Linked DNA regions of Homo sapiens: all the other regions are linked to region 1. The links come from fine-mapping of genetic effects on gene expression. A gene starts in region 1. Each other region holds a variant in brackets. All regions are shown on one strand. Distances are from middle to middle. Region 1 holds the start of TTC12 (tetratricopeptide repeat domain 12). Region 2 overlaps TTC12 (tetratricopeptide repeat domain 12). Region 3 overlaps TTC12 (tetratricopeptide repeat domain 12). Region 4 overlaps TTC12-DT (TTC12 divergent transcript). Region 5 overlaps TTC12 (tetratricopeptide repeat domain 12).

The links. PIP is the estimated chance that this variant, and not a neighbour inherited with it, causes the effect.
Region 2: its variant is the best candidate, but not a certain one, in a credible set for the expression of TTC12 in unexposed skin (GTEx, PIP 0.52).
Region 3: its variant is the best candidate, but not a certain one, in a credible set for the expression of TTC12 in whole blood (Lepik 2017, PIP 0.77).
Region 4: its variant is the best candidate, but not a certain one, in a credible set for the expression of TTC12 in whole blood (TOPMed, PIP 0.84).
Region 5: its variant is the best candidate, but not a certain one, in a credible set for the expression of TTC12 in NK cells (Schmiedel 2018, PIP 0.71).

The regions. Positions count from the first base shown.
Region 1 is chr11:113,311,857-113,317,888 of GRCh38, forward strand. TTC12 (tetratricopeptide repeat domain 12) reads left to right here and starts at 2,727. Exons shown (of 22, transcript NM_017868.4): 1 at 2,727-2,762; 2 at 4,387-4,459. The coding sequence starts at 4,402. It overlaps TTC12-DT (TTC12 divergent transcript), which reads right to left and starts at 2,600. Exons shown (of 5, transcript NR_199709.1): 1 at 2,474-2,600. RefSeq lists silencers at 2,538-2,787, 2,811-3,105, 2,998-3,097.
Region 2 is chr11:113,365,994-113,372,025 of GRCh38, forward strand. TTC12 (tetratricopeptide repeat domain 12) reads left to right here. Exons shown (of 22, transcript NM_017868.4): 22 at 232-394. The coding sequence ends at 307. Among named protein-coding and RNA genes, the nearest start is that of ANKK1, 19 kb to the right of the region's middle. The variant C/A (reference allele first, on the strand shown) is at 2,994.
Region 3 is chr11:113,357,753-113,363,784 of GRCh38, forward strand. TTC12 (tetratricopeptide repeat domain 12) reads left to right here. Exons shown (of 22, transcript NM_017868.4): 17 at 1,611-1,709; 18 at 2,188-2,256; 19 at 4,649-4,750. Among named protein-coding and RNA genes, the nearest start is that of ANKK1, 27 kb to the right of the region's middle. The variant T/G (reference allele first, on the strand shown) is at 3,948.
Region 4 is chr11:113,290,250-113,296,281 of GRCh38, forward strand. All of the region lies in intron 1 of TTC12-DT (TTC12 divergent transcript), which reads right to left. Among named protein-coding and RNA genes, the nearest start is that of NCAM1-AS1, 19 kb to the left of the region's middle. The variant C/G (reference allele first, on the strand shown) is at 3,074.
Region 5 is chr11:113,344,935-113,350,966 of GRCh38, forward strand. It overlaps TTC12 (tetratricopeptide repeat domain 12), which reads left to right. Exons shown (of 22, transcript NM_017868.4): 14 at 5,139-5,231. Among named protein-coding and RNA genes, the nearest start is that of TTC12, 33 kb to the left of the region's middle. RefSeq lists an enhancer at 1-236. The variant C/T (reference allele first, on the strand shown) is at 2,394.

The DNA.
Region 1 (6,032 bases):
GTTAAGGGGAACTATAATATTGTAACTGGGTCTACGTGATTCTGAGATAACAGACACTAAATAATTATGAAGAAGCAGGCCAGAGAACAAGCTGACCTCATGGTTCATGCTGAATGTGCTGCAAGCTGGGCTTATTTTATTTCTCCCCTTCCCTGCTTCCCTGATTAATTTTATAAAGTTTGTAAGGAAGGTTTCAGTAGTGTTAGTAATAAAAAAGGAGGAATATGATCCCCAGTACATAGCACAATAGAAGGTGCATAGTAGGTGCTTCAAGACATTTTAATGAATGCTAATAGGTGGAGATGTGAGATTTGAACCCAGCAAAATGGCTCCAGAGCCCCAGCTCTTAACCACTTAGCATGTGATGACTATTTGTCAAGTGCACCCCAGGGGCCTTCCGCTGCATCTAGCACACTACAGGCCACTCACACTAGCTGAACAAATGTGTGAGTGAATGGTTAGGTGGTACAGTCAGTTGTGGGCAGATACCTCTGGAACCTAGGAAAGGAGTTTAGTGAAAAGAGTAGTAGGATAGGAAGTAAGTGATTTGGAACTATTGGCCTCAATGTGATAAGAAACACCCTGAGGTTGGGGACCATAGGCATATAGCCTTCATGTATTCAAGGCCTCACAGGCCTAAGAGGAAAATGGGGTGATACTAATGGTGATAACCAAAACATCACTGGTTCTTGTCTCCATCAATTCCCACAGGCTGGAAGGTCACTGTGAAGTACCCTATATCTTTCTGAGGATCCCTATGGTGTGCCTAGCCTGTGCTCATCAACGTCCTTGCTCCTGCCAGGCACCTACACTGTCTGCTACTTCTCCTGAGGCACCTCATTCCCTTGGGACAGCCACTGTGACCATGTCCTGCTGGGATCCCCAGGTCTCCTGCTGCAGTTGATGAGCCAAAAGACTCACTCTGCTGATGCTGTACCCATTCAGCTGCCAAGAGGAGCAGAACATCCGTGGCCCCTTTGTGTTATACTGCATTAGAGGGGTACCCAAGCAGGATGGTATGTGTACCAATGCATCATAGAGACTTCAGCCAAACAGCTCTTCTGTTCTCTACAGGACACAGGCATGCATCCTATGGGGCCTAGGCCACAAGAGAGTCAACAGGCTGTACTTGGAATCAACACTAGAGCTAGCTGGCCATGCCTGGATCCCTCTCCCCTCTGGCGAATTCCATCTCTAGGGGCTCCTTGTTCCCTGCCAAACAGGTTTCCATAAAGCACTCATTTGCCAAGAAGTTCCGGGTGTTTCTGACCGTGAACTTAAGCTCAAGTTTCCCCTAAACCTGCTTTTTTTCCATTGGTAACCCTGCACATAATACTCTGAGATTTTGTTTAGAAAAACAGACTGAAATTTCTTTAGGGCTGTGTGCATGTATTTGGGGCATGAATGAATGTGCCTATTAGCTCATTCTGTTCTAAACCCTATGATTCCCCGGATGTCACGTGCCACCTGTTCCTACTGACTAGGTACCAGGCACTGAAACCACCATTGCAAAATTATAACTGAGATGGTGAAAGGGATCTGACCTAACCGACTCCATCTTGCTTCTCATCTCCAAGCTGTCTTTGTTCATTCCTAGGCATAGGCCAAACTAACTTTGGGGGGAACTTAGTTTATAGTGTAGCTTTGAAACAAAGACAATACCAGCCCTTTCCCAAACAAACCCCCTTCTTGCCCAGGAACTAGACTGCCTTTTCAGGACTAACAAATTAGCCACAAAATTAGAAATTATGGTTTAGGAGTCATGCAGCTAGAGGCTGCAAGATTCTAAACCTCAAATTGCTCCTGGGGATAACATCAACTATTGTAAAACCTAAGATCAGTGCTTAAGATATTTCACAGACACTGCACTCGATGGATCAGCTGGCACCACCCAGATGAATAAACTGGCTCATCTGGTCTTATGACCCCCACCTGGCAACTGACTCAGCACAAGAGGACAGCTTTGACTCCCTGTGAGTTCATCTCCTAGCCTACCAATCAGCACTCCCGACTCACTGACCCCTACCCACCAAATTATCCTTAAAAACTCTGATCCCTGAAAGCTAGGGAGACTGATTTGAGTAATAATAAAACTCCGGTCTCCCTCACAGCCAGCTTTGTGTGAATTACTCTTTCTCTATTGCAATTCCCCTGTCTTGATAAATCGACTCTGTTTAGGCAGTGAGCAAGGTGAACCTATTGGGCGGTTACAGCACTTTAACCATAAACCTTATGAGAAAGTGCCATTTCTCCATTTCACAGGTGAGAAAACTGAGGATTAAAAAGGTTACTCAAATAACTTTCCTAAGGATAAATGTGTGAGTCTTCTAACTCACACATTTATCAATGAACAAAACCGGATTCACAAGTACACTGGAGACTTTACATTTTGGGCAAGGATATTAAGCTAACGGGAGTGAGACAACCCTTCTTCAGTAGAAAAAAGGCGAGCAGCAGGCGCTGCTTTAGTTACCAGCACTTTGCTTCCTCCGTCTCCCCGCGCCAGGCATCGGGCATCCCAACCTCGACTTTGGCCTTCAACTTGGCGCGCTCCGGAGCTAGAGCTCTGCGGTAGCGAATCTGATCGCGTGTCCATGCCCGCCCCCTGTCCCGCCTCCTGGCTTTTGACCCCGTCCTTGGTCCCGCCCCGGGCCCTGGCTCCTGGCCCCGCCCTTGGTCCCGCCCCGGGCCCCTGGCTCCTGGCCCCGCCCCAGCCCAGGCAGGTCACTGCGCCATTTCCTGTCCAAAGCTGGGCGAATCAGGTCGGTGCCGCGGGGTACCCCGGAATCCCCCCTGGGAGCTGGTCCTGCACTGGCCTTCAGAGCCGAGCAGAGGACGCTGCTTTGGGCCCCAGAGCATGGGAAGGTCTTGGCTGCGGTCTGGGACGGCTGCGGTCTGGGACCTGCATGGAGGGCCCGGGACTTGCGGACGCCTGGGAGCGGTTGCTGGGCAACAGTGCGTGCGGCCTGGCCTCTTTGCGCCCGGCGGGCAGCGCGCGTCTGGGGCAGGCTCCGCGCGGGGCTCGGGCACAGGTCCCCGCTGCCGCAGCCCTACCGAGTGAAGCACTGAGCGCGGCGCCGCTTCGCCATCACCTGGCTCTGGCCCTCTCACCCTAGCGTAGGGGGGCACTGGCCAGGCAGTGAGGACCCTGAGATCCATGCCCTGGGAGACAGAGGTTGTCTCCTGTCCATGCACCCGCGCGCCTGCCTTCTAACCTTCATACCGTTGGGCAGATTAATTCACTGGACTAGGCCTCTGTTCCGTGGGAGTTGAAAAGATTTGACCTGGAAGAAACCCTAGCGATTATTCAGTTAAGCCGCAACCCCACCCCCTGTTTTATATAGGTAAGGGTGCTTCACGGTGAGGACTCGTCGCGTGCCTGGTGCTTTACATCAGTCCCCAGAATAGTCCTCGTAGTTTCTCTCTTACTGTTCCCATAGTATGGGTGAGGACTCTGAGGCTCGGAGAGGTTGTGAATTTAGCCAGAATCACACAGCTTGTAACTGGTGGAGATGAGGACACTGAGACTCGATTAAATCACTCGTAGTTTGTTCGTGGCAGATTACGTGTTAGAAGCGTGTTACACTACTATGAAACCTGGCCATAAATGAGAATCACCTGGAAAGTGTTTAAAATCTATATTCGTGTCTGGGCAATGTCCCGGGTTTACTGACTTGAAATCTCGGGCTACGGCTGAGGAAGCTGTATATTTAACAATCTTCCCGATGATTTTTATGATCTGTGGATGAACCACTGAGTACTGCTGGGTACACCACGGGGCCTTCTCGCACAAAAACAACTGTAAAATAATATCTGAGGTACCTAGAGCAGAAGAGACGCTGGTGAGCATGGTAACATTATGTTCTAATCCCTTCAGTCAATTTGTACCCTTTCTTCACTCTTCAGAAACAAGCCAAAGGCAGATTTTAAACAAGTATGGACATTTAGATGCAAATTGCCCCAAGTTTGTTACCTGTCACACATCCACATTTAAGCTTCTGACTAGACCAGCCTGTCATGATCAAAGTCAGGTGTTAGTGTATTTCTCTATCCTTGGCAACCTGTCATCTGCTCTCTTCTCATCTCCATGCCAGGTCCCTAAATCGCCGGGGTTGATGTTGGCTTTGGAAGAACTATTTGCAGAGCGTTTTCTGCACTGGAAGGAGGGCTGGAAGCTTTCTGGAAGCATTGCCGCACGTAAATGAGTGCCTCTTGGCCTAAAACAGCAGTTGGAATGAAAGGGATCACCCTGCTGTTATTCATTGACATAAACAAAACTGTCATAAAAATAATCACTTGGCTCTTAGTTTTAGAAGGCTAATAAGCCTGACCGTTCTGTTTAGTGCTTTATTATTATTAATTTCACCATTATGCTGCATCCCTTAGGGATTCCGGTTCACAATGGATGCTGATAAAGAGAAAGATTTGCAGAAATTTCTTAAAAATGTGGATGAAATCTGTAAGTACTAGTAAATCATAAATTAATTTCTGCTTTAGAGAAGTGGAGTAGATAAATGATTGCTCTAAGTTCCTGGGTGGCTTGACAGGTTTATAACTCTTAGGAAAAAAATGTAATTGAAATTAAAGAGAAGGGTATTGAGAAACAAGTTATAGCCTCAGGGCTGTATTTTCTGGCTGTTAATTGGTATCAGAGAAACTGTTAACATTCTGATAGGAATTCAGGCTGACGGTTTTCTTCCATATTTTGTATCCTTCTATGTGGAATCCAGTCAAAACCAGCTGCTGTTTCCCCATTGACAATGAACCCAGCTGTTCCCTTCAAGGGTCAAGAACCTCATTGATCAGTGTGAGATTCCTCCCGTTTTAGAGTAGAGCCATTTCTGTTTTAGAGCTGCAGAGGCAAAATCAAATGGCTTTCCTTTAGGATCCATCAAATTACATGGATGGTTTATGATCATCATTCCCTTCTCTCTCTCTAGACAAGAAAGTCCTTTCCCAAGTTCAGGCAGGTTGGATCTCAAAGAAATGTACTCTGATCCCACAGATCACATTCAGGAATTTCCAAACCTGTCAGTCCCTGTTCAGGGAGCTTGCTTGAGTATAGAAACAAACAAACCAACAAGCAAACAGACCTTACATAGTAAATACAGGCAATATGCTGAAATTGCTGCTTGTAGCAGATTGTATGGGTTCAAGGAATAAAGTGGTTTTAAAGCTAGCTTGGGTGACATCGTAAATGATACATGAATAATGCTTATCCCTGAATGCTGTTCCATGGAGCTCTGGCCTTGGCCCACTGCCACCTTTCTCTTCAGCTGGTCTAAACATGTAGCTTTACCTGCCACCTGTTTGTTCATGACCCCCACATCTACATGGACACTTAGCCTTCTTTTCTGAGCCTCTGCCTCTATGGTACTGTCATACCTACTGTATCCCACAAATAAACTTAAATGTGTCCAAAATTGAGGCATCATCTCTTTCCCTCCCCTTTGCCCTCCCCCTCCCAAATAAAACCTGCTTCTCCTACCCTCACCTTCATCCTGGTCTCAGTTGGTGACACCACCATCCAGAAATTTACAGGTCATCTGGGACTCCTCCCAACTCATAACCCTGCATCCAATTAGCCATCTAGTTTGGTTGGAGAGCCATCCTCTCCAGCCCTCCCTTTGTTCTGGTTCTTCTCACCCAGACTATGTCAACAACCCCCTGATTGTTTTTCCTGTCTCCAGGCTTATACTTCCCACAGAGTAATGTATCTAAAATGCAAATCTGACCCAGACACTTCTCTGCTTGGATTCCTTTTGCAGTCATAATAAATCCCAAGCTCTCATCAGGACTTAAGTCCTCCCATGACCTTGTCCTTACCTCTCTCATATCTCCCTACCTCACGCTTGAGCAGCAATAAACTGCTGATACTTCGCCACACATACTCTGTGTTTCACACTCTGCACTGGATCTTTGCCATTCCCACTGCCTCTTCATCTTTTTTTTTAACCTGGCTAACTTATGCATACTCAAAGTTCATTCAGGTATCATGTATACCAGTGCTGTCCAATAGAGCTTTCTGTGAT
Region 2 (6,032 bases), 54 kb after region 1:
ACACCTGCCACCTGCAGCGAGTGTTTTCAGTGCTTTGTGGGCCTCCCTGAGGGTCTTACTTACCCCTGTGATCTTTAGGGTACCCCAATGCCACAGCCACTTCCTGTTTCCACCCAGAGTGATAGGACTGACGTTCTCAGCCAGCTTCCATCTGAGAGGGTGTTGGCTCTGGGCTCCAGAAGCCTGAACCGTGGCACTTATGCCCTGGGTTGTTTGTTTTGATTGTGACAGATTTGCTGCTCAACTGAGAAAGCTTCATGGCCTAGAAATTCTCAACTCTACGATGAAATACATCAGTGATTCTTGAGAGAGACAGGGTTTGTGTGCATTTGGGGAACACACAGATGCACACCGTGTGTTGTTCCTATGCTAATAAAGACCTTTGATGTATCCACTTCAGAATCAAGTACTCATTTTTAGAGTGTTTGCATTTCAGGTTTTCACGGGTAACAAGAGAGTGGGCATTAGGCTGGCTGCTGTGGTGGGCTCTGTGCACTGGCTTACTCGACTTCCATTGTACCCTCCTTTGAATGTTCTTTCCTGTTCTGTAGAAGCTAGAAACCATCTCACAAAAAGCCACATTGCCCAGACTCCCTTGTAGCAACGATTCTAGATGGGAACTAGTGGCCAATCTAATGCCACTTCCTACCCCTTTTGCTATTTTCTGCTGGCAATATGCTAGAAACATCAGATTTGTTGGTAGCAGCATTTCAGCTCCGTTTTTCCAGCTGTGGAGTGCTGAGAGAGAGTTGCATTGGCATCATTGGTGGCCTGCAGCTGACTCCTGGCCTGCAGCCACTGCATGTGCCGTTAAATTCAGTGGGGTGAGTGGTAGGTGGTGTCTCCCCTGTTAGGAGAACTCTGCGTGAATCATTCTGGGAATCATTCCTGGGGGTCCCTCTGGCACCCTCCTCCAGCCCATCTGGTGGTGCTATAGGCACCCTGTTCCATGGGTTAGATTGTTCTCTGCTAAAGGTGCCAAAGCACAGGCTTCTCTTTCTACAGTGAACCCTGACTGATGCAAATGTGTTGATTTCCCTAACCCACCTTGTACTCTCACCCCATCCCCAGAGGCAACGCTCCCTTCCAGTTGCCCCAGGGTCACTCTAAACCAGGGTCACCTGTGGACTGCAAGTCCCTAAGTGAGAAGTCCAATAAGTGGCATTATCTCTGGCTCCTTACAATCACAGAATCATTTTAGAGTAGGAGGCAGGGTCTTCATGGTACAGTGAATGTCAGGAGTCCCAGACCAAAGTTCCAAAGACTTTTGGTCGTACCCTGCTACCTGCCCTGCCAGCCATGTGACTTTGGGCAAGTTGCTTAACCTCTCTGAGCTTTGGCTACTGCTTCTGGAAACACTAATACCTGCCCAACCTACCTCCTCCATTGTTGTAAAGGTTAAATGAAGTTTTGGAGGTGAAGGCACTTTGGGAATTATAAAGTACTACGCAAATATAAGAGATTACCAGACTCTATCTTGAGATTGAGGGTGTCAACTATGACGTCATTTGGGTTAAGTTTGAAGGGTCTGGGAAAGGATGAAGCTCATGTCCTTTAAGGAATCAAGCTGGCCATTCTCTGAAGCATGTAGGAAAGGAAATCCTCCTCCTCCAGGGAGATGTTATTCAACACACCCAAAGAAAGTGTTCTTCACAGGTAAGGCAGCTGTTGGCTTAAATTAAGAACTTCGTTTCTGAAACGGAGATAAATAATTGGCATTTGGTGACGGGGGTGGGCGGTGGAAGAAAATCAATGGCCTGAGCCCCTCATTCAGATTGATGTACTGCGCATGGCTGGAGGGAGCTCACTGGGGCACTCTGTGGTGGCGCCCTGGGTGGCAAGCAAGTGACAGGCCACTAGCCAGGACCTGCCCATCAGTCCTATCATGCAAACAAACACCCTTCAAGAGGCTACTGAATTGCAAAGGGAGAACGGCTCGATGCTAATCAGAGCACAAAGAAGAAAATTAGAGGGTGCAAAAGTTGCTGTTTTCACAGAATTCCGTGGAGCTTTGAAAACGGAAAGGCTGTTTGTGTTCATAACCACCAGCCCTGTCTCCTTTGAAGTTCAGGCCCCGCCTTCCCCTGCTATGGCTGCCCTCCTTCTTGGCTCTTGAAAATGGCTATGATAGGTGTATTCTCTTCCCCAAAGAGTGGGGAATGTCAAATTACGTTATTATGTTTATTGTTCCAGAGTGCCTGCCGAGAGCAGTCATCTCCAATTTGGAAGAGAGTCTGCTGCACCTGAAGCTCTGTCTCCTCGCAGGTGGGAAGAGATGTTTCACATGCTAGTATTCTCCCTCTCCAGTGTGGATCCACCCCCGCCACCGCCCCAAACTTGTTACCCCTAACACATGCTACCATGCAGACCTTCCAGGCAGCATGGAAAATACCAGCGCCATCTTTCAGAAGGCCTCATCTCCACTTGCCAGGAGCCCCGACACCACCCTTGGAGACACGGCTTGTTCCAGGTAATCAGAGTCTTCTGGTTCAACAAGCAGAGGAGCTGGGATTTTCCATCCTAAAGAGGATGTGGCCGGGATGGAACTCCATCACCATCCTGAAGCCACAGCAGAGGTGGCAGGTAACAGACAGTCCAGAGCTGCTCACTGTCTTCATACATGACGTGAGGACGGTGGTTCCAGTGCGCCGCAAGGTGGGACTGAGGTTCAGAGTTGAGAGGAAACAATAGGAAGGGGCTGAGATGCTGCAACAGGTCACGGGCTGCTATTGTAAACACTTTTTTAAGGATAGGTTCAAATAAGAGCTTCTTGGCTTGGAGAACTGAGGGGAAGTATGACTAAGAAGTATTAGGTTGGTGCAAAACTAATTGCAGTTTTTGCCATTAAAAGTAATGACAAAAACTGCAATTTCTTTTGCACTAACCTAATATTCTGAGGACAAGAAGACATTTAATACCACATGACTTTTTTTAAGTAAGAGGTCTCATTTTCTAAATAACTTGAAAATAGAGGCTCTCCAAGGGTTCCGTTA[C/A]AGGAGAGAATAATCAGAGGTGAAGAAAACCCATTTAGAGCTGACTCCCTTTCCCAGGGAATGAGCTTTTGGTCCTCATAGACTGGCATCCTGCAGACACGCAGAGAGAAAGAATAAAGCCTGCCTGTGCATTGTTTGTTTGTTTGTTTGTTTGTTTTGAAACAGAGCCTCACTTTATCGGCCAGGCTGGAGTGCAGTGGTGTGATCTCAGCTCACTGCAACCTCTGCCTCCCAGGTTCAAGTGATTCTCATGTCTCAGCTTCCCATAGCTGGGATTACAGGCATGCGTCCGTATCCCAAATTTTCATATTTTTATGAAATATGGTGTTTCACCATGTTGACCAGGCTGGTCTCGAACTCCTGACCTCAAGTGATCCACCTGCCTCAGCCTCCCAAAGTGCTGGGATTACAGATGCGAGCCACCATGCCCGCCCCCCCACCCCCCGTGCATTGTGCCTTTGCTCTGCACTAGGCACCCTATCAAAACTTGAAGATCCTGCCCTAACATAAGCCTCATAACGACTGTGAGGTGGGTATTATCTCCACTTTACAGGTAAATAAGATAAAAACAGAATAGTACTTTCCCACCCAGGATCACATAGCCAGGAAGCAGGGGAGTCAGAATTTGACCCCAAGCTGTGTTCTTAACTCTTCCTGCATGTAAAACATTCCTCTCCTTACTAAGTGTGACCTGCAGAAAAGTCACCACATTTCTCAGAGCCCCAGTTTCCTCTCTATAAAATGGGAGCATCAACACCTACCTCTCCTTCTGTGGTTTGGATATAATATACATGAAGTACCTAGCATAGGTGACTGACAGATAGAAAGTATTTACTTAATGGCGACTCTTTTTGAGAACAGAAATGACCATGAGCCCATTATCTGCCCCCTCCCACCCTCACGGATCTGCTTATCTTCCTTGGTCCTCCGTCTCACTGAAGGCAAGCATGTATTTGGCTCTGTTTACCTTTCCCTCTCTCCTGTGACTGGTGGCAAACATGAAGATCCCCCAAGAGCCAGCTGCCAGCCAGAAGCCTGCCTTCTTACATGACCCCATGGCAGCAGGGCCTGAGAGCACTGGTCTTGGGTGGGATGGGGTTCAGAGCAACTCAGGGCTCAGGGATAGGGTAGCAGCGCTCCTTGTCAGGGCCTGGGGCCAGGGGTGCATGGGCATCAACAGGACCCAGTGTGAAGTGGAAGGTGCTAGGATCAATGCTCTAAAATCCTCTTTGCAAACAGATACTCCTCTGTTACTTGCAGTTTGTCCTCAGTTTATAATCAGGAAAACCTGTTGATTGCAATGACTGTAGCTCCAATCATATATTCATCAGGATGTCATTAGTTCTTTTCTCCTAAAGCCCCAGAGCTGCATCCCCCTACCCTCCCTGATGCCCTAGAAAGAGGAGTGCTAGCCCAGCGGGACATCCAGTTGCCCACCACCTCCTCCAGCAGCTCCCGGCCCTGTGGGTGGCCACATGCCAGCCAAGCACTGGGCTTCTGTGACCTGAAGCTGCTGGATGACTTATTTCCTTTTAATAAGACTCCTAATTTGATCTCAATTTCAAAAAGGCAAAATGATGAAGGAGTTCTCCCTGGAGACATTCTGCCCTGTGGTCTGATTTTGCCCTGGGGCTGGATCAGGCTTTCTTGGCTGCTCTGAGGCTCAGCCCTGGCTTAGGTAGGAGGGAGCCTTAGGGTGCTGGCAAAGCAGGGAACAGTGGGCTGCCGATTACCTCTGCCAGCCACCCCAGCCTCAGATCTCCCCAGTTCTGGAGCAGGGCTCCTGTCACCAGCGGGTTGGAAGGAACTGCTTTAAATGAGGGTGGCTGCCTGCCAGATGTGCTGATTCAGCTCAGCCTGAGCATCACTCCATTGTCACATCTGTCCCCAACTTTATGTTTGGGCTTCTTATCTTCAGCAGCTCTGGATGCTCATTTAGATCCCTCAACTCCCCTCGGGCAACAAGCACACACATACACACACCCCCACACACACGGAATTCATCTCGCTGCTGCTGGGAGATGAATTTGCACATTAAAATAGGTGAGTTAACGTGCAAGGTGATTTACACTAGATCAAAGGCACAGCAAGATAGTGAGAATTATTGGAACAAGAGGCTGAAGAAAAGGCTCCTAGAATGTCCAAGCTGAAAAGTATTCAGGGATCATCTAATCCTCTACAGTCATCCCTTTGTATCCACCAGGGATTGATACCACAGATACCAAAGCCCTGGGATGCTCAGGTCCCCTATATGAAATGCATCATATTTGCATATAACCTACATACATTCTCATATACTTTAAATCATCTCTAGATTGCTTATAATACCTAACACAATGTAAATTCTATGTAAATAGTGGATATACTGTATTTCTTAAAATTTGTATTATTTTTTATTGTTGGAGTGTTATTTTTATTGTTTTTTCCCCAAATATTTTTGATCTGCAGTTGGTTGAATCTGCAAATTTGGAACCCGAGGGTACAGAGGGCTGACTGTATCTGCTTTGTTGGAGTCCATCTGATTCATTGTCTAAATACAATTAATTGCTCCAAAATGGCTAGTCCATGCCCCCTTATTTTATAAATAAGGAATCTGAGACTCAGAAAGGCCAAGTGAAGTATCTTCAATGTTCTTACCTTTGTTCAAGAACCCTCTGAACTAATGGTCCAGAGTGGGGTAGGGACTCCAACAAGACCCGGAGAGGCAGGAAGCTCAGTGGTGGGAGTGCAGGCTCAAAGTCCTCCTCCACCTTGCTTTAAATTTCATAACCTCGCTTTAAGTTTTAAGTTTCATAACCTTAGTGAGTGGCTTAGCCCCTCGATTGCCTTGTCTGTAAAAGGCAATAGGGGAGATATGATACCCACTTCTTAGGTTTGTTGTGGGGATTAAATGAGATGATTTCTATAAAGCTCTCATCACCGTACTTGGCACATGGAAGCCCTGAGGAGATGGGCACTCCTGTTGTGGTCATGTTGGTTGAGCATACTTCCATAGATGGCCCCACCCGGCCATCCCTATATGCTCTTTTCTGGGGTTCT
Region 3 (6,032 bases), 46 kb after region 1:
TTGGGCCTCAACTTTGTTTTCTGGCTTCTCTAGGTTAAGAATACACTTTACTGGGGGAGCCAAGGTGATCCCGAACCTCTGGTCACTACACTCCAATGGGTGTTGTTAGCCCAAGAATTTCATAATGTGGTGACAATGGGACCTTAACTTGTTCACTCATGCCAACAGCAGCAGAAGACCTGTGGCAGAGTGCTAGCAGGTGTCAGGGTGCCTGCCTCCCTGCGGGTGTTTGCCACAATGGCAGAGGCAACGCAGCTGGGGGAGAGGGTCCCTGCTGATGACTGTGTGTGTGGTCATGCTGAAGATTGTGCCTTCTCTGTGCCTCACAAGCAGAGGAGGTTGCTCCTAGGGGGAGAAGGATCTGCTATACTCTATGCCATGCTAGCACAAGGGCAAGGGGAAGGTGCTGGTAGGGGTGGGGCTAGCTGTGCCCATCAAGACTCCATCTGCAATGGTGATCAGTGGGAAGAGGAGGGGCAGGACTGCACTCCCGTGCTCTGGCAGGGCAAGGAAAGCAAAACCTGCCTGATCAGACACTCACCAGCAAAGTGATGTGGGGAGTTGCCCTGGGCCCAGGGGAAGCTGCAGTGTGGGGAGGGAGCATGTGGGCTGGTGCATGGTGATGGGGTACTCTGCTGGTGCTCTCCACTGGTCAGGCATGGTCTGCCAGTGCAGAAGCTATGGTGTGGGCCCCCAGAGCCCCCAAGACTGCTCAGCAAGCAGGTGTGGCCTGGCTGGGGCCCCAGGAGAGGCCAGCAGAGCAAGGGGTCCTCAAGTTGGACTGGCCCTGTTTGATGGGCAAGACCACCCTGCAGAGTTCAGGTCTGATGATTCCCCGAGGGCTAAAGTCTCCTGTGGGAGCAAGTTGAGCCTAGTGGGGATGGCTGTCCCTGGCCATTCTCCACTACAGACACTTCTACGCCCAACCCTCTGGGCTCCACATCAACTGGCTTGCCACCCCTACCACTTCTCTAAGCAGCTCTCCCTGACAACTCGATGAGTGTCTGTGCTGGTCAAGGGGATTTCTCCTGCCAGGGTTCCAGAGGCCTATGATGAGATCAGGTTGCTCTTTGCCAGTTCAACTCACCCATTCCCCAAGAGCCTTTGGGGACCAAGAACAAGCCTTGGTACATAGGCTTGCATGCAGCATTCCCAGTTACTCCCTTTCTGCCCTGCTTCTGCATCTTCCCTTCATCTACTCTCAGTGCCTTCCCTTTGAAGATCTATTAGGAGCATGTCAGTCATCTCTGTCCCTCAGTGGGAGCTGTTCCACCTGGCTGTATCTAGTTAGCCATCTTGCCTGATCCTGATTTGAAGGATTTTTCTGGTGGAGTTGAATGATCACCCGTCTCAGCAGCTGACTCTTCACTTTAAACCCAGGACCAACCTCAGCCATAGTCCCATGGCAGAGGCACCAGAGACTCCTTCCAAGTCTCCTGGACCAACACTAACTCATAGAACTGGTCTCTGATCCTCCACCATCATTTAGGTTCATGACATTGGCAATTTAGGGAGTGTGGGGAACTCTGAGACCCTTGTCCAAGGGAAAAGATGACCATAAAAAGCTGTAAGGCAAAAAGGTCATTGGTTACCTTGTTTTGTTTCCCAAGGCCAGGTGTGAGGAGGATGTGGACCTGTTCAGAGAGGTTATCTACACACTCCTGGGACTCATGATGAACCTGTGTCTTCAGGCTCCCTTTGTCTCTGAGGTATGGCATTCTTGTCTCCCTGCCTGGAGCCCTGGGACAACCTGTACACATTCTGTGGCATAAAACCATTCTCATGTTCACGAAGAGACAGAAGCATGTACACTCACACACTGGCCGTGGAATGGGAAAAGGCTGGAGGGATGCGCTCTCCCTTTGCTCTGCTGAGGGATGGATGGATCACCACTCAGTCATGTATTCACTCAGAAAACAGACTGGGTATCCAAGGTGTGCTGAGCAGAGTATGAGGTGCTGCATTTACAAAGTCAAATAAAAGGCGGTTCCTGCTATCAGGGTAATGCCCTGGAGTTAGGGGAGACAGACATGGGGAGGAATAAAAGCAGTAAAAGATGGTGTTGTGAGGGAACCTGGGCATAGTGTGGTGGTGCTAAAAAGGAGACGGTGCTCAGAAGAAGCTCCGCTGAGAATTCAGATTGTCAGAAAATTAAAATCTCCTGCTGGCCTCTCCCCATTGTTGTAGGTTTGGGCTGTGGAGGTGAGCAGAAGGTGCCTGTCTTTACTAAACAGCCAGGATGGAGGAATCCTGACAGTAAGTTTCTCCCAGGGAAATCCAGAAGCAGCTTCCATTGTTCTTGTTTTGTTTTGTTTTGTTTTGTTTTATTATCAGTGTAATCTTTTTGAAGTTGCCACCTTTGAGAATCTGCTGACTCTGAGATATGGTGTGGATATACTATTCAGAATAATGTACACAAGCACATAAATACCAGGTTTTGTCTACAGTTTCAGAGATTTGGTGACCTCCTTGCTGTGTCCGTCATCTGTGGATCCCCTAGAGTCCAGGAACCCAACTTAAGAATCCCCCTTCCGTATGGTCTGAAATTTAACCAGCTTAGATGATATAATCGATCCGATCTGTCCTATTTCAAAATATCCTGTGCAAATTGGACAGATCAAGTGTCCAACTTATTTAGAATCCCTTTTTTCCATAAGAAAAAAAAAAAGCCAAGCCCATATTTTAAGCCAGTGATCCTAGAGGTTGTTTGTGCATAATAGTTTTACCCTCTTTTTAAAATATATGCTGAAATGGCTTTCTCAATTCTGTGTCTGACATTTGAATAAGAAAACTGAGAAAGGCCTATATGTTAGCACAGTGCATCAGGAGAAGAATATTAGTATGATTCAAGAGGCTATTTGCCATCACCCTAGAACGTATTCTTCACTCACATTAAGTGATCACCCGTTTTTCTCCCTGTCAGGGCAGGACCCTAATGGCTAGGGAAGCAATTAGGGCCACATCTAGGGTGGGTCTGGGAAACCAGCCTTTCAAGGGTTGCAGACTGAGGACTGCCTCCACAGTTTAAAAAATGTTCTGAGTAGATCCAACATACCCTGTTTGGGGGTAGCACTCTTTAAACGTCCCCAAAGTCAATTCAGACAGGATAGGGCAAAGGTTTTGTGCGTGTGCATTTTCACAGACGGGGCATCGTAGCTTTCATCAGATCCTCAAAAGAGGTCTATGACCCCCAAAGTGGTAAGCACCACCGTTTCCGGATGGTCCAGACCTAAAGGTGAGCCTACACTAGTGCCTGAGTAAACCTTTAGGAGAGCTCTTGGGCCAGATTTCCCCAGCATTCCTTGTGTGCCACGTTGGGTGCTTCCCAGCTTGCTGAGCAGAGCAGCAGCTTCACCATGGGCATCTGGTCCTTGTCTAGCACAGTCTCCACTGTCTTGGGCCTGAAAGGGGATCCGTGGTGTCAACTATAGCAAAATTCTAGGATCTTTAGGAAGCAGATTAGGGAAACAAGATTGATAATACACAAGTTTATCTTTTCTCCCTCTGGAGACCTCATTAAAATGAGATTAAAGCCATTGGGGGGGAACAAAAAAAGTAGAGACCTACGTTGACAGTGAACAGGCAATGGTTACCAATAGGTAAGTAATTTTAACAAGTTTCCTGAAGATGGAGAACAGCTGCAAGGGTGGTAATTAATGAGGCAGGGCTGAGGAAACCTTTGTATGGAGTACAAATGGAGGAACACGTAGCTGGGCAGTAGCAGGTTTGCCTTATAATACCCTGGAGAGGATGAAGATTTCAAAACTCCCGATACAACAGAGAGCAGAAGTACAAGGCAGTGGAGCTGCGTTTGCTGGCAGGCATCTATCCTCCAGGCATAAAATCAGAACACTTTTATCTCTAAAGAACTGAAAAACTGGAGAAAACATTTTTCTTTCTAGTATACGGGGGTGCCACCTCTATATCTTTCCATACTTCTGATAAAC[T/G]TCCCATAAACATAGCATGCCCAAACATATTTTCTTGCTTTTTTCATACATGTGATTGGGCAGGTAAAGGGTCAACCAGACATTGCAGGAAAGCTACACACATAAATAGGAAAACCAAGATAAACATAAAAATTGATCCAAAAGAAATAGAGATGATATAGGAAACAGAAGAAAAAAATAGTAACTATCATTTGTATCCTGAGAAAGATTTAAGATAGTTATATCCATAAAAGAGTAACAGCTTGGCATTTATTTAAAAAAAAAAAAAAAGAAAGAAGAGCCGGGAAATAAAGTAAATGAACTATCCCAGAAACTAGAACAAAAGACAAAGATTCGAAAAGATAAAGATAAATGACACAGAAGACCAATCCAGGAAATCAAACATCTCCTTATAAAGGGCCTGCTGATATCAGAGCTCTGGGAGGAATCACAAGGGAGAACTTCCTTTCTCAGAGTGGAACTGGTTGATCCTGTGTGAAGCTGAAATAATATGGGCCTCTGGGTGGCAAGGGGCTATGATTACAGCTCCTTGACAGCTTTATTAAAAAGAACAGTGCTTTCTATTATTTGGCCATCATATTTTTTATATTTTGCTTCCAATATAATGATTGCTTTTGCCTCACCAAACTCCCCGTTAGCTTTTAAAGGTTGTCAGCATTTCTGAAAAGGACATTTAATTATCCTCTTTCTGCTGTACTCAGAGAGCTGCTGGTGTTCTGAGCCGGACCCTTTCTTCCTCTCTGAAAATTGTTGAGGAGGCCTTGCGAGCAGGAGTGGTAAAGAAAATGATGAAATTCCTGAAGGTAAGATCACTTTATTGGTTACAACCCCTGAAATGTACAGAAGTCTCCTATTTTATTCGGGGAACAGAATTAAGGTGGGCTTTGTTTGGTTAATGTGCTGCCATTTCTTCCTTGCTAGATTTTAAACTTCTTGGATAGGGATTTGCTTCTGCCTGTCTACCCAGACCATACTCTGAACATCAACAACAGATTGTTGAATAAATAAGAAAATTGTTCATTAGATACATCTATAAAACCTGCTTACCCCTCAAGCCTGACTTAAAAATATATGGCCACTGTTCTTGATAAAAATGATCTGAGTGGCTTTCTGTAACGTTTCTCAGGCACATTGTTCTGCTCAGGTTTTGCTACTCATGATGCTTTATACAGTTATCTGGAGAGTGTTGGATGGAACTCCATCTATGAGACATGTAGCCTGCAGAATTACCATGTGACCAAAGGATGTTGGGATTTCCCTGTGAGATGAGTGTGGTGAATCTAAGCAAGCCAGTAGAGCAGTTATCTGGATTCACCTGCAAGGGCGAAGGGGATTAATACACTAGGCTGCCATCTCAGAATCCCACCTATGATGTGTGTGCCCATGAGGTCCATACACCCATGTTAGTGTGGTGACACATGGCTTTTATTCATAAAGCATCAGGCTGAGTGGCGCAGGGAAGCATGCTCTGCGGGCTGCTGCTAGGGCAGGGGTGACACTGAGGGGGCAGCACAGGGGGTCTGAGTTTAGATTGCCACTTGAACAATGACTGTCATTCATTATAACTTTTGCAAACCCACCAAAAGCTCCTGATGGCATGCATACCCATGCATCACACGTGCATACGTGCACACATGCCTTTTAAAGACCCCACATGGGTGATTGCAAGGGCTGTGTTTGACAGTTGTCATCTCTTAAAATGATGTAGGTTCCTGAAGTTCCTCATGCAGGACTGTCAGCCTGACAGCCTTAGCAAGTCAGTCCTCGTTCTCAAATGGGAAAATGACATGGGAGGGCCTTTTCCTCCCTTTTTGGTAGATCTGCCATTCATCAGCATCATTCTCTTCTCAGCCACTTGCTCATAAAGCCTTCCGGAGGCAATTACTCAGGTGTACATGACAGGCCTACATTCCTGTCAGGGGTGTGGGCTGGGTTAGAGAGGATGCGGGTGACACTCTGTTCCAGCAGGGACCATGCCTGCCCACCAGGAAGCACATGCCGTTCTCAGTAGAATTCTCTTTTCAGAGTTTAGGAAGCCACTAGCGCTATAATAACTGCTTGCTGTGGTTTGTGGTCAAGAGCAAT
Region 4 (6,032 bases), 22 kb before region 1:
GAAGTCTTGAGCTTCCAGGTGCCACCCCAAGGGAAAGCCTGCCTGAGATTGAAACCAACACACAGGAAGCAGAACAGATCTCAGAGGCATTGGAGTCCCATGGACCAGACGTGCCTGAAAAATGCCTGGGTTTTTCAATTCCCTGAACCAATATATTCCCTTTACTGAAGTCAATTTGTGTGGGATTTTTTTTTAACTTAAAATAAAAAAGTACTAATAATTGCTATGTAATTTAAAAAATTAGCATGTGGAAGTAAGCTGTTGTAAGTAGCAGATCCAAAAATAGAGAATCATATGTCAAGGTGAGTGGGGGGGGGGGCATTTATTCATTACCATGTGCCACTCCCTGTTTGCTATAAACTGAATGTTGTTATTTACAGTTCATTTGTCGAACTCCTAACCCCCAATCCTAACCCCTAAGGGATTTTGGGAGGTGACTAGATCATGAGGGTGGATCCCTTGTTTAATGCCCTGATGAAAGAGACCCCAGAGAGCTCCCTCACCCATTCCACCATGTGAGGACACAGTGAGAAGAAGGTCTATGACCCAGGAAGTGGGACCTCACCAGACACCATTTACTAGTGCCTTGATCTTGGACTTCCAGCCTTCCCAACTGTAAGAAATACATTTCCGTTGTTAATAAGCCACCCAGTCTGTGGATTTTAGCCTGAATGGACTAAGGCACTGCTCTAGTGCTAGAGATTCAGTAGGCACCAAAATGGATGTGATCCATGCTCCCGAGTTAACTTCCTGGCGGAGAATGCCACCGTAAACCACTGAGAATGCAGCAGCTCTGCAGAGGCCTGAGCAGAATGATGGGATAGAGTGAGGTCACATGGCTTCTTGAGGTTGCATGGGCAGGGGCCGATGCAATGGGAATGCGCTCATCGACATGTTTGCTAGCAGTCACATTTCCTAGACCCCCTTGTTTGTATGGTTCCAGTTAGAATTAGACAAAGGAAGAACTCATGTGTGATTTGAAGGCAGAAGGACGTGGTGTCCATCATGCTCTTAAGGACTTATAGTCTCCTGCAGTGACAGAGAAATGTGGAGGTGCTCATGAGTCCTGCACACCTTTGCTCTCCTCCACGCAAGTTCAGCTGACCGTCAGCATCCTTCTGACCAAGCTCAACCTCAGGTCTACTGCCAGACATGTGGCCACGGGACACAGAGAGATCATAGCCTCCTATGGACCTGTTTATGAAATTCCCCTTCACACGCACATGGGGTGGCTCATGTGAGGGAGGAAGCAGCAGCCATGGAAAGAGAACAAGTTCAAGATCTGTGTTGGAAGTAGGCTTGGCAGGACTTGCTGGTAGGTTGGATGGAAGATGTGGCTTAAAAGGGGGTCAGGATGTCTCCTAGGCTTTGTCTTAAGCAAGAAAGCAAATGTTTCAGGCCATTTATTGAGATAAGGAGCCTATCTAGGATTGGAAATAAGAGTTCTTCTTTGGCCATTGTGGTAGGTTGAAAAAAAGGACAATATTGTGGTAGATTAGGGAAAAACTGGTCACACACACACATACACAAATGTCTTCAGCAACTCCCAATCATAATCATAAACTTACATTAAAAATGCAAATGCAATGCAAAGATGTTTCTTTTTCTTGAACACTTGAAAGTAAATTTCTGGCCAGATGCTCCAGCACCTGTGAATATTGTACTATTTCTTATAAGCAAGGACCTTCTCTCCCCTACATAATCAAGATCAAAATCAATGTCAAGAAATTAGCATGGGGCCAGGTGCAGTGGCTCACCTCTGTAATCCCAGCACTTTGGGAGGCCGAGGCAGTCAGATCACGAGGTCAGGAGATCGAGACCATCCTGGCTAACATGGTGAAACCCCGTCTCTACTAAAAATACAAAAAAAATTAGCCAGGCATGGTGGCAGGCGCCTGTAGTCCCAGCTACTCGGGAGGCTGAGGCAGGAGAATGGCGTGAACCCGGGAGGCGGAGCTTGCAGTGAGGCAAGATCGCACCACCACTGCACTCCAGCCTGGGCCACAGACAGACTCCGTCTCAAAAAAAATTAACATGGATACAATACTATTTTTTAACCTGCAGTCCTTATTCAAATTTCTCCAGTTGTTCCTCTGATGATCCTTAAACAAAAGAAAAATAATCTTTGTGTGTTCAACATTCACTCCAGGAACACACCATTTTTTTTAGTTTCATGCCTCTCTAGTCTCCATCAATCTGGAAGATGAGTTCTGTTTTGTTTGTCACGATCTTGACATTTTCGAAGAGTTCAGGCCATTGGTTTTGTAGAATGACCCTCAATTTTAGCTTGTCCAACATTTTCTCACAACGAAATTCAGGTGCTGCTCTTTCACAGGAATGCCATGGAGCTGGTCCTCTCACTCTGGCTTCATCTTACCAAGTGGCACGTGATCTCCATCCTCCTGTGTCTGACGATGCCCACTTGGATCACTTGATTAAGGTGGTGTCTGCCAGGCTTTTTTGCTGTGAAGTCACTCTTTTCCCCTCTTTGTAGTTAAAAAGCATTTGTTCATTGTGGTAGTATTAACATTAATTGAGGGCATGCTATGTGTAGAGGGACTTTAAAACTTTGTAAATATCCCGTGCCCCATCAAACTTTCAATTGATTGTTTATCTATCAGATAAACACTATCAGAAAACCACTAGACTAGACTAGTGATTGTCTAGTTTTCAGTGAATTCTGTTAGCTTCATTATTTATTTTGATGTGCAGATTGTCCCTGATCCGGTCACTCAGTGGGAGCCCATTCCATCTGGTTTCTGGTTTTTACATGACCTAATCATTCTTTGAGCACTTCATTACTTCCTGACACAACAGGATGTTACATTCTCATCTCGTCCTTTCTCTTCTTCAGTCCTGGAAGCAGCCATTTCTTCAGGAAACCTAAGTTTCAAGAGATGCTGGTGTAGTGTACTCATTGCTCCCAGGACTTCTCAGTGGACACATTGGTTTTCTCTGGAGAGCCTTGATACAAATGGGACATGGCAGAACTAGAACCTGAATCAAGACTTATTTTACTCTATGCTCAGAGCTCTTTATTTTTCTCAGTGAAAACTGGCTTAAGAGGAAGAGA[C/G]ACATATGTGTATGGATACATACATGTACCCTATTGTCACAGGATACTAGAAATATGTGGATAACCTCACATCTTTATCCTCTTCCTAAATGGTTCTTCCAAAGTCTGGATGGACAACTGTTTCCCCAGCACAATGAATTCAACCCACCAAAGCTTCTCATTATCCCTTTCTTCATCCCTCCTCCTCCAACTCCTCCCCTCCCCCGCCTTCCTCTGTTGCCTATCACAGAGAAGGGCAGAGCCATCCATTCGCTTCTGTAAGCTGAATAGCTGGCATTGTCATCAGAATCCTTCCTTTCTCTCTCCCCATTTCCAATTTGTCAATGTTTTCTATTGATTTTCTCTACTGAACATCTCTTGTATTCATCTCCTCCTCTCCAACCCGGCAACTGCTGACTTGGTCTCTCAACGCCTCCCATCTGTGCTTTGCAATTGTATGCACTTCCTTGCCCATAGGCAAAGTCCTGGTGGCTGAGCACCAGCCACAACACTAAGAAGTCAGCAAGTGAGAGGTGAGTAAAGGACATACATGTATAGTCTGTGGAGCTGTCTCAACAAGGAATGGCACAATCCAAGGCTACATCGATGCTCTAAGGCAGGGAGGCAGAGAAAAAGGATGGGGGTGTTCAGGCAGTGAGGACCAGTCCAGGGAGACGTAATAGAGGAAGGACTCAAAGCAGAAGGCAAGGCACAGAGCCTGGGGTCATTCCTCTGTCCGTAGCCGGAGAGCCTCCACCTTGTCCGGTTTCTTATCTTTCTGTAGTGCAAATCTGTGACTCACTTGCTTAGAACACATCAGTTGTTTACCTTCACCTGCAGGACAAAATCTCAATCCTTGGAATATCCCCCCTGTCTCCCTCTGTGCCTCACTGAGTGCAACTTCCCCTTGTATTACTCACTCCTATAAGATGGAATTACTGATAGTTTCCTGATGACACTGTGTTCTCTCACCTGTGTGCCTGCACACCTGCTCGTCACTGTGCCCACAGTGCCTTGCTCACCTGGCAAAGTCCTACTTCTCTTCCTTCTCCTATGCTTGTGTCACACACTGCACAATTCTCCACTGAAGCATTCATGCCATCGCATCATAACTGTCTGCAGGTCTTGCAGATTTGCAGGAAAGACCATAAGCTCCTTGAGGCCACTGTCTTCACATTGTCTTGTCATTGTCTTCATGCCCCTGCTCCATCCCCATGCCACTAAGTTGTTGCTCAGTACATTTGTTGAATGGATAAACAAATGAATTCATGAACTAGAAGTTGGGAGGAGAGAGTGGTTTAGGACAAGAAGTTGTAGGGGATTTTCTTTAAACTTTTAATGTGGAAAAATATTAGATTTACAGAAGAGTTGCAAAGATAGTATGAGGAGTTCCTGCATACACTTAACCCAGGTTCTTCTAATGTTACTCCCCTTTGGTTATATCTGATATAGCCAGAGAAGTCTTACCAACTAAAGAATTAGCATTAGTAGAGTGATACTACCTAAACTAAAAATTTTATTTAGATTTCACCAGTTCTCTGCCAATGTCCTTTTTCTGTGCCAGGATCTCATCCAGGGAACCACGTTGTACCTAGTTCTCAGGAGCCTAGGTTTCTGCTTAGTCTTCTCCTTAATATTCTCCAGACTGCAGTACTTTCCTTGTCTGTCATGACCTTGACACTTTTGAAGAGTACTGGTCAGGTATTTCACAGAATGTCCCTCCATTTGGGTTTGTAATGATTTCCCTCACGATTAGAATAGGGTTATAGATTCTGGGGGAAGAATGTCAGAGGTGAGGTCCTTTTCTCATTGCATGACTTCAGGGATTATGACATCAACGTAAAAGGTTACTACTTTCCCCTTCCATACTCTGTTCTTTAGAAGTGAATCACTAAATCCAATGAACACTCAAGGGGAAAGGAACTGAGCTCCACCCCTTAGAAATGGGAGTACCTACAATTATTACCTGGAATTCTTCTGTTGGGGATATTTATTTTTGCTATAATCCAGGTAGTCAAGTGAAGCCTATGGACCTAGTCTCAGAATATTTTAAATTTTAATGTATTGATTTTTTGAAATGAAATACATGGGATTATAAAGGAAAACAGTTGCATTGATATACGATTATTAAACTATTTTTTAAAAAAATTTGTGGCATAGGAATTAAGAAGAAATTACTAAGGCAGATAGTGAAGGTACAGGAGTTCTCAGTAAGATTTTCCTTTTTAATGAAAAGCAGCCCCCAAATCATTTTCTAACAAAGAGCAGCCTGTAAAATCCAGATGCAGACATAGACAAACAAGCTAGAGGCTTGCACCAGTGAATGCCAGCAGGAAAAAGCTACCTGAGACTAGACATGTTCAAAATGGCGGCTCCATCTTCCCTTCTCTTTAACAGCCAAGTGTACAGTAAGGGCTTTCTGGTCAAGTGAAAAGCCCATTTGCATAATAAGATTAGAGTGGGGTGGCCAGCCTTCCCCACATACTATGTAAACGTCACACCTGATCGAACCAATCTGTGGGCTCTACATAAATCAGACACCACTTCCTCAAGTCTGCCTATAAAATCCAGAAAACTCCACCGCCAGCTCGTCCTTCCTTTTGGAAGCCCCTCTCTCTCACTAGAGAGAGAGAGAGCTGTTCTCCTTTCTCTTCCTTTTGCCTATGAAACCTCTGCTCCTAAACTCCTTGTGTGTGCCTGTGTCCTAACTTTTCTTGGCATGAGATGACGAACCCCGAGTATTTACCCCAGACAATGACACCGCATCAGTAATACATGTGCTTATTTATCAGTTCTTCAAAACACAAGGTCTGGTAGCATGTGTAAGATGCTTCAGTTGGAAGCTTCGACTGTGATTTCAAAGTGTTGCTCAGCATAAGTGACATCACAGCTGATGCTAATACCACAGTGGGTTGTTGCCTATATTAACAGTGAAACTAGAAAGTGAAGCAAAAATATTCACAGATCTTTTGAAAGAAGC
Region 5 (6,032 bases), 33 kb after region 1:
ATGTGTGTACCCTAAGTAGACTTTCTAGAAAGATTACTGAACCACAGTGATTCTGCCCCGTCCTTTATAATTTATTAGTTTATTTTTTAAATCATTTATTTATTTGTTATTTTGCTCACTTGTTTTACGTATTTATTTACTTTTATCTTACTAAGTTTTCAGTTTATTTATCTTTACATGATTAGTTTGAACATATGAAATTGCCACTTATTAGATCTAAAAGGTTGCATGCCAGCCATTTTATGTGGTTCAATCTAACAGAAATAGTGGCAATTATTGTAGCTTGCTTTATAAATGTTTCTCACACAATCTAAAAACAGGAGATGACCCTTCTGAGTTTTTTCATTCACTGCTATTTTGTTTTATCTCCCCTCATCCTGCGGGGTAGGCAAGGTAAGCTTTATTACCTCATGTCACTCATGGGGCAGGAAGAACTGCAGCAAGGAACCAAGGGAATCTCACCCAACTAGGCTGGCCCCCAGGTACTGTTCTGAGGACCCAGCTCCGCTCTGTGTTCCCAGTGGGAAAAGGAGCCAAACCTGCTACAACTGGCTCCTGTTCCTTCCAGATCTTTTTGGGACCCTGCTGAGCCCTCCCACACTGTCCAATTTGGTATGTAGGTCCATGTGTGCCGTGACAGGATGGTTATTAAGCCTTGCCTACGGCTCCCCTTCCAGGCCCAGTCGCAGCCTCAGTGGCTCCCAGGAAAGGCTTTGGCAACCCACTGAAGCTCAGCCTGCACGGCAGATGCAGATTGTTAGTGGAGTTCAATTCCCCAAAAGCACATTTCACATTTCAAATGACTCTGCAGTCATTTCCTCGATACCTTCATCGTATTTTTTTAATATTGTTTTTGTCTCTTTGAGTAAATGTAGCTATAGCTATCATGAGCTTTTCCCCTCAAGCTATCTTTGAATTGCTTGAGCTTCAATGTGCATTTTTCCAGTGTCTCGGAGAGTGGCGTTCATGATCACCTCGGGTGGTCCTGCCTACTCTCTCTAAGATAGTCAGAGAAACCTCAGCTTTTTACTTTTATGCCCACTAGCCTCCTTAACGTTCATCTCCAGTTGAACCAGACAGAATGGGTTCTCTGTGATGAAACGAGGCAGTTTGAAGCAAGACAGGGCTGCTGCACATAGCCCCTTGACCGTCACGGCAGCACACGTATCACATTCCTCCCACAATGTTTATCCTCAGAGAAGAGGTTGAAGGCATGAATGTGTGCTGGCCAAGGGCCAGTGTCATTTTGTAAAAAGTGCTGGGTTTTAGTCTTAAGCGTACTGAGTTTCAATTCCCTGCATGTCTCTGCTTGTGTGACCCAGGAAAGTTATTTAGCATGGACAGGCCCCGGCATCTCATCTGCATCACTCACTTATGATGACACGGGGGGTGATGCAGTTGAATTTTTTCTGCTGCATTGTGCAGAATACTTGAGCAAAAGGAGCTTAAGCAAAATAAAGCCTGGCTTGTTTTGTCACCTAATAAAATGAGACTAAAGATAGCAGCTATTGGTGCGGTGGCTTAAAGACGTCGAGGTCCAAGTCTCTGCCCTTCTCTTGACCTTCCTCACATGGTCATACCTTCCCTCTTGCTGCAACTCCAAGCTTCACATCCTTCTTTAAGACAGGTCAATACCAGCTGGATCGGTCCCTTTTATCAAGAAAACCTACTGCCTATTTCTCTTTGGACAGAATTGTGTCACATGCTACCCCTAGTGGAAAAAAAATGGTCCCAACTTCTTCTGTAGTAGAGTTAGGAAGAATAGAAGGGAATGGAGAATATCTGTGAGGTTAGCCAGCAAACAGCATCTGCTACAGAAAAAAAAAAAAAAAAAGCAACTAACATCAATTAAGCCTGACACATGGTATGATAAGGGCTCAATAATATTTTTATAATCATTTTCTCTTAGGGTATATTGTTTAGGGTCCTAAACTGAAGTAACCTTGCATTTATTAGTTACATGAAAGCATTTTCTCACCTGTGGTTCACTCACAGAGACAGCTGCTTATCAGCAGAGCAGAAAATCTGCCACCAAAAAAGAGGGTATGTGAGGAAATAGAAAGGGACACACCGTCCTCTCTAGGTGCTGAGTCCAGTTAGGATGTGTGCATTGTCACATAGTGAGGGGGCCTAGCTGCTTATGTCTGCCAGGACAAAGCCAAGATGGTCTTAGACTGTTGTCTCATCTGTGCTATTCAGGTTCATTAGCAGTCATCTTCAAGACCGAAGAAAATAGGTTTAAATTGGTGAAGGATGAATCTGAACTAACTGTAAAACAAATAAATTATTTTTGACAGCAGGAGCACTGGAATCCATTCCTGAAGATGTTAGGGATTTGCAGAAGCTTGGCGTCACCTGGGCCCTTAGAAACCATCCAGTCAAGCCCCACTCAG[C/T]ATAGATGTCCTCTGCGTACCCCCATACAGCCTGTGCATGGTGCCCTCCAGGGGAGATGCCAGCAGTTTTCATTATTTTTAATCTCCATTTGATTCGGGATGGGCACTAACGCAGCTAATAGACTGAGTGGAGGAAGTCTTTCCCCAATTAGCGAGAGGCTGTGGATCTCACCTCCCAAGGTAGCCAACTGTCCATTTCAAGACAGTTCTGATTGAGATAAATTATCTCCTTACACTGTGCACAAGTTGCCTGCCCCGTACTATTCTGGGGCTGATTCTGCCTCCATACACTGAGGCCCAGGCCCAGACTCCTCCCAGCTTTCCAGTACTTTAGATATCTGAAAATACTGATATATTCCAGGTTAAGCATCCTTGTTACCTCCATCATTCCTTTGATGATTTGGCCTCCAGACCACTCCTAGAATAAGTGGCTAAATAGATCCAGCACCATAGATGTGGGTGACTGGAATTCATATTCCCAAAAGCCCAATCTGATGGCCTGTCATCTGTCTTTCTTAAAGATGTCAAGGTCAAAGTCCCTGCCCTTCTCTGCCCTGTGGCATTTGGTCCTATTGATCACTACTCTTCTGGAAACTCCATCACAGTGATTGTCAGGACACCATCCTTCCTGGCCCCTCTCCTACCTCCTGGCTATTCCTTTGTGGTTTCCTTTGCAAGCCCCCCTATGCTATCACCCTTCCAAGTCAGGGACCCCAGGATCCTACCCTTGGCCCTCTTCCCATCCATGGCTTTCGTCAAGAGGCAAAGGGTGTAAGTCTCACTCTGTTGAGTGTGAGATGAAAACGCCCTTCTGCCACTGGACATCTCTATCACAACATCCACAAGTATCATCGACTTAATAAATCAAAATTGGGTCTTCACACCAGTTCATCTACCTGAATTTCCTGTCTTCACAGAGGGTATCTCCACCTATCCAGTCGCCTAAGCCAATGTCCTGGAAGTGACCTGGCTCTCCCTCACCACATCCATAAGATAGTATGCTGCCAGCTCTTTCTCCTTAGCATCTCCTGAATTCATTTTCTTCTAGTTCTCCTCTACTGTCTCCAATCATTTCTTCCAGGTCTTCATGAGTGTCTCTTTGTGTTTTTACTGTACCTCTTACTCTGCTGCTGCCTCAGTCTGGTCCCTTAGCCTTTATTATCTGGACAATCACAGTTCTCCCCTGGTTGAATTCCTGCCTCTTGTACTACCTGCTCCAATCCAGCCTCCACCATACACTGAAGGGATTTTTCTAAAATGCACATCTGTTCTGCTATTTTCCTACTTAACACACTGAAATGACTATTCCTTGTAAGGCTGGTTCTCCAATTACTGAGAAATATAATGGCTAGGAATCACATGAGGACTTTATAAAAAAGCAGCCTCCTGGAGCTTCCTCCCACTCAGAGTAACTGAGGAATCTGTCCCAGAGACCCCCACCACCAACCACACATTGGAGAACAGGGGCCAACAGGGCAAAGTACAGACTTTCCAGCAGGCCCTAGAAGGCCCCCAGGATCTGGGCTCTGTCCAGCTCTCTACCATCCCCTGTTCTCCCCTCACATCCTAAGCATTAACTGCATGCCAGCAGTCCCCAAATGTGCTCCTGCAATTCTATGCCCACATAGTCTGTGACTACAGGCTGCTTTGCCTGACATGCCTCTGTACCCATCCCTGTGGGCCCGACACTGGCCTGCAAGCTGCCTGGAGCCAGGACATTGTCTTGTTTCATCATTATGACCTCAGAACTGACCACATTGCCTGGTACACAGTCAGTGCTTGTTCATTGTGATTGGTCAAATGGATAAACGAATGAATAGCTAACACTACACTTCAAGAGACACTGAAGTGTCATCTATTGAAGGCTTCTTCACTTCCATGCCCACACCTTCCACCAGTGAGACTCTGGTCCCCTCAACATGTGTCTGTCTCTGACATATCACCTAAGACAGTTTATCTTATTTATTTACATGTGTATCACTGTAGGAGACCAGGAGCTCAGTACTGAGCACAGTATACTTAGCACCTTATAGATGCTTAATGCAAGTTTGCTGGATGAACAAATTACTCTTACTTCCATTGTCATGGTGCCAGTAAGTCCGTTTGGGCAGCCTGAGATTTCATCAGGTGTTTTTTGGCATCTGTGTTAGACTGTTTGCTCATTTTGTGTTTGTAAGTGGCTAAAAATCCTTAAATCTTTCTCATAGGAACCAGTTATAAACCAGGTCTCACAATTCTGTTACTTAAGCAGAATTTCCAGCTCTAAGTGGAGGACTTTGAGCTTAACCCTATTAAATTTAATCTAATATATTCAGCAGCCTGTCACAATCTTGTTAAATCTTTATTCCGTCACCCACCTTATTAGGGGGCCCTCCCACTTTAGTCATCAGCAGATTAGTAAGCATGCCATTTAGATGTCATCTAAGTTAATGAACCTGACTGAGCCAGAGTCACATGGCAGAGTCACAGAAACTCCTTCTGAGCTGGCGTCCGATAATCAATAAACTTTGGTTAAAAGTATTCAGCATTCTGGGGATTCACATTAAGTGGTGGAGCCAACCACTTAAGAGTATCTGTCTCTGGGTGGGCAAGGAGCTAGGCTTCCTAGGAGGGCATGACAAGGCACCCTTTCTGCTTATTTCACCCGGATGCTGACTCCTTTTTTGGTTTCCTTGCAAGGTTACCCTGTTGGGATGTTGTTAGTTGGAGGACAGCTACCTCTGAGGTTATTATGGTTTTTTGCAGATTATTGGAAGCGCTGGTGTCATTTCTTGATTTCTCGGATAAGGAGGCCAACACTGCTATGGGACTGTTCACAGACTTGGCTCTGGAAGAAAGGTAATTTTTTTATTTATAGAAATTGACATTTCTTCTTCAGTCTTTGTTGAACTGTCTGATCTTTAAAAATGTGCTGTATTCAGAGAGGCTAGGCCAAGTCTCCAAGTGAGTATTGCAAGATTCACTGAGTAGGAGGGCTGATGCCTCCCAGGGGGCTGCAGCCACCCACTCCCATTCTAGTCACTCTGCATAGAGGCTGACCCGGGCCTCCATGGGTTTGGAAGCAGCAGCATACTTAAAGCAGTGCCTCTCACAGTAGGCAAGCCTCCCAAGTGTCAGGAACCTTCCTCCCTCCTAATCAGTGCCTGGTACATAGGAGCTGCCCAGCAAATTTGCGTTGAATGAACCTGAGCGAGCCAGCGAGCCAGCAAGCAAGAATGAACAGTCAACTGCAGCCTCCTCTGGGGTTGCCAGTGACATTATGAGTAATGACCTCCTTCTGCCCCATGGCTTTGTGTTGTTTTGTTTTGTTTTGTCTAGCTGCTGGGGATGATAGTAAGGGTCTTAGTTTTCATAATTTTTCAGTTGCTTTTTTTTAAAGTGCATCTTGTGTTTTAAATTTCCTCACAAATTTTAGGACACCTTGCTTAGAGATGATAATAGGATGAGAGAGCTCACAGGCAGGCCAGCCAGCTGGCACGGGCCGGGGTATGGAACAGTGGCCATAGAGTGTGGAGATGCGCATGCATCCAGGCCCTCCCAGTGGCTCCGATGGGTAAACATGCTTGCATGGTATTTGCCTTCCGCACCGCACACACACGCTGTAGACTCAGAGCAGGGGTTGGGGGTAAGTCAGCTTGG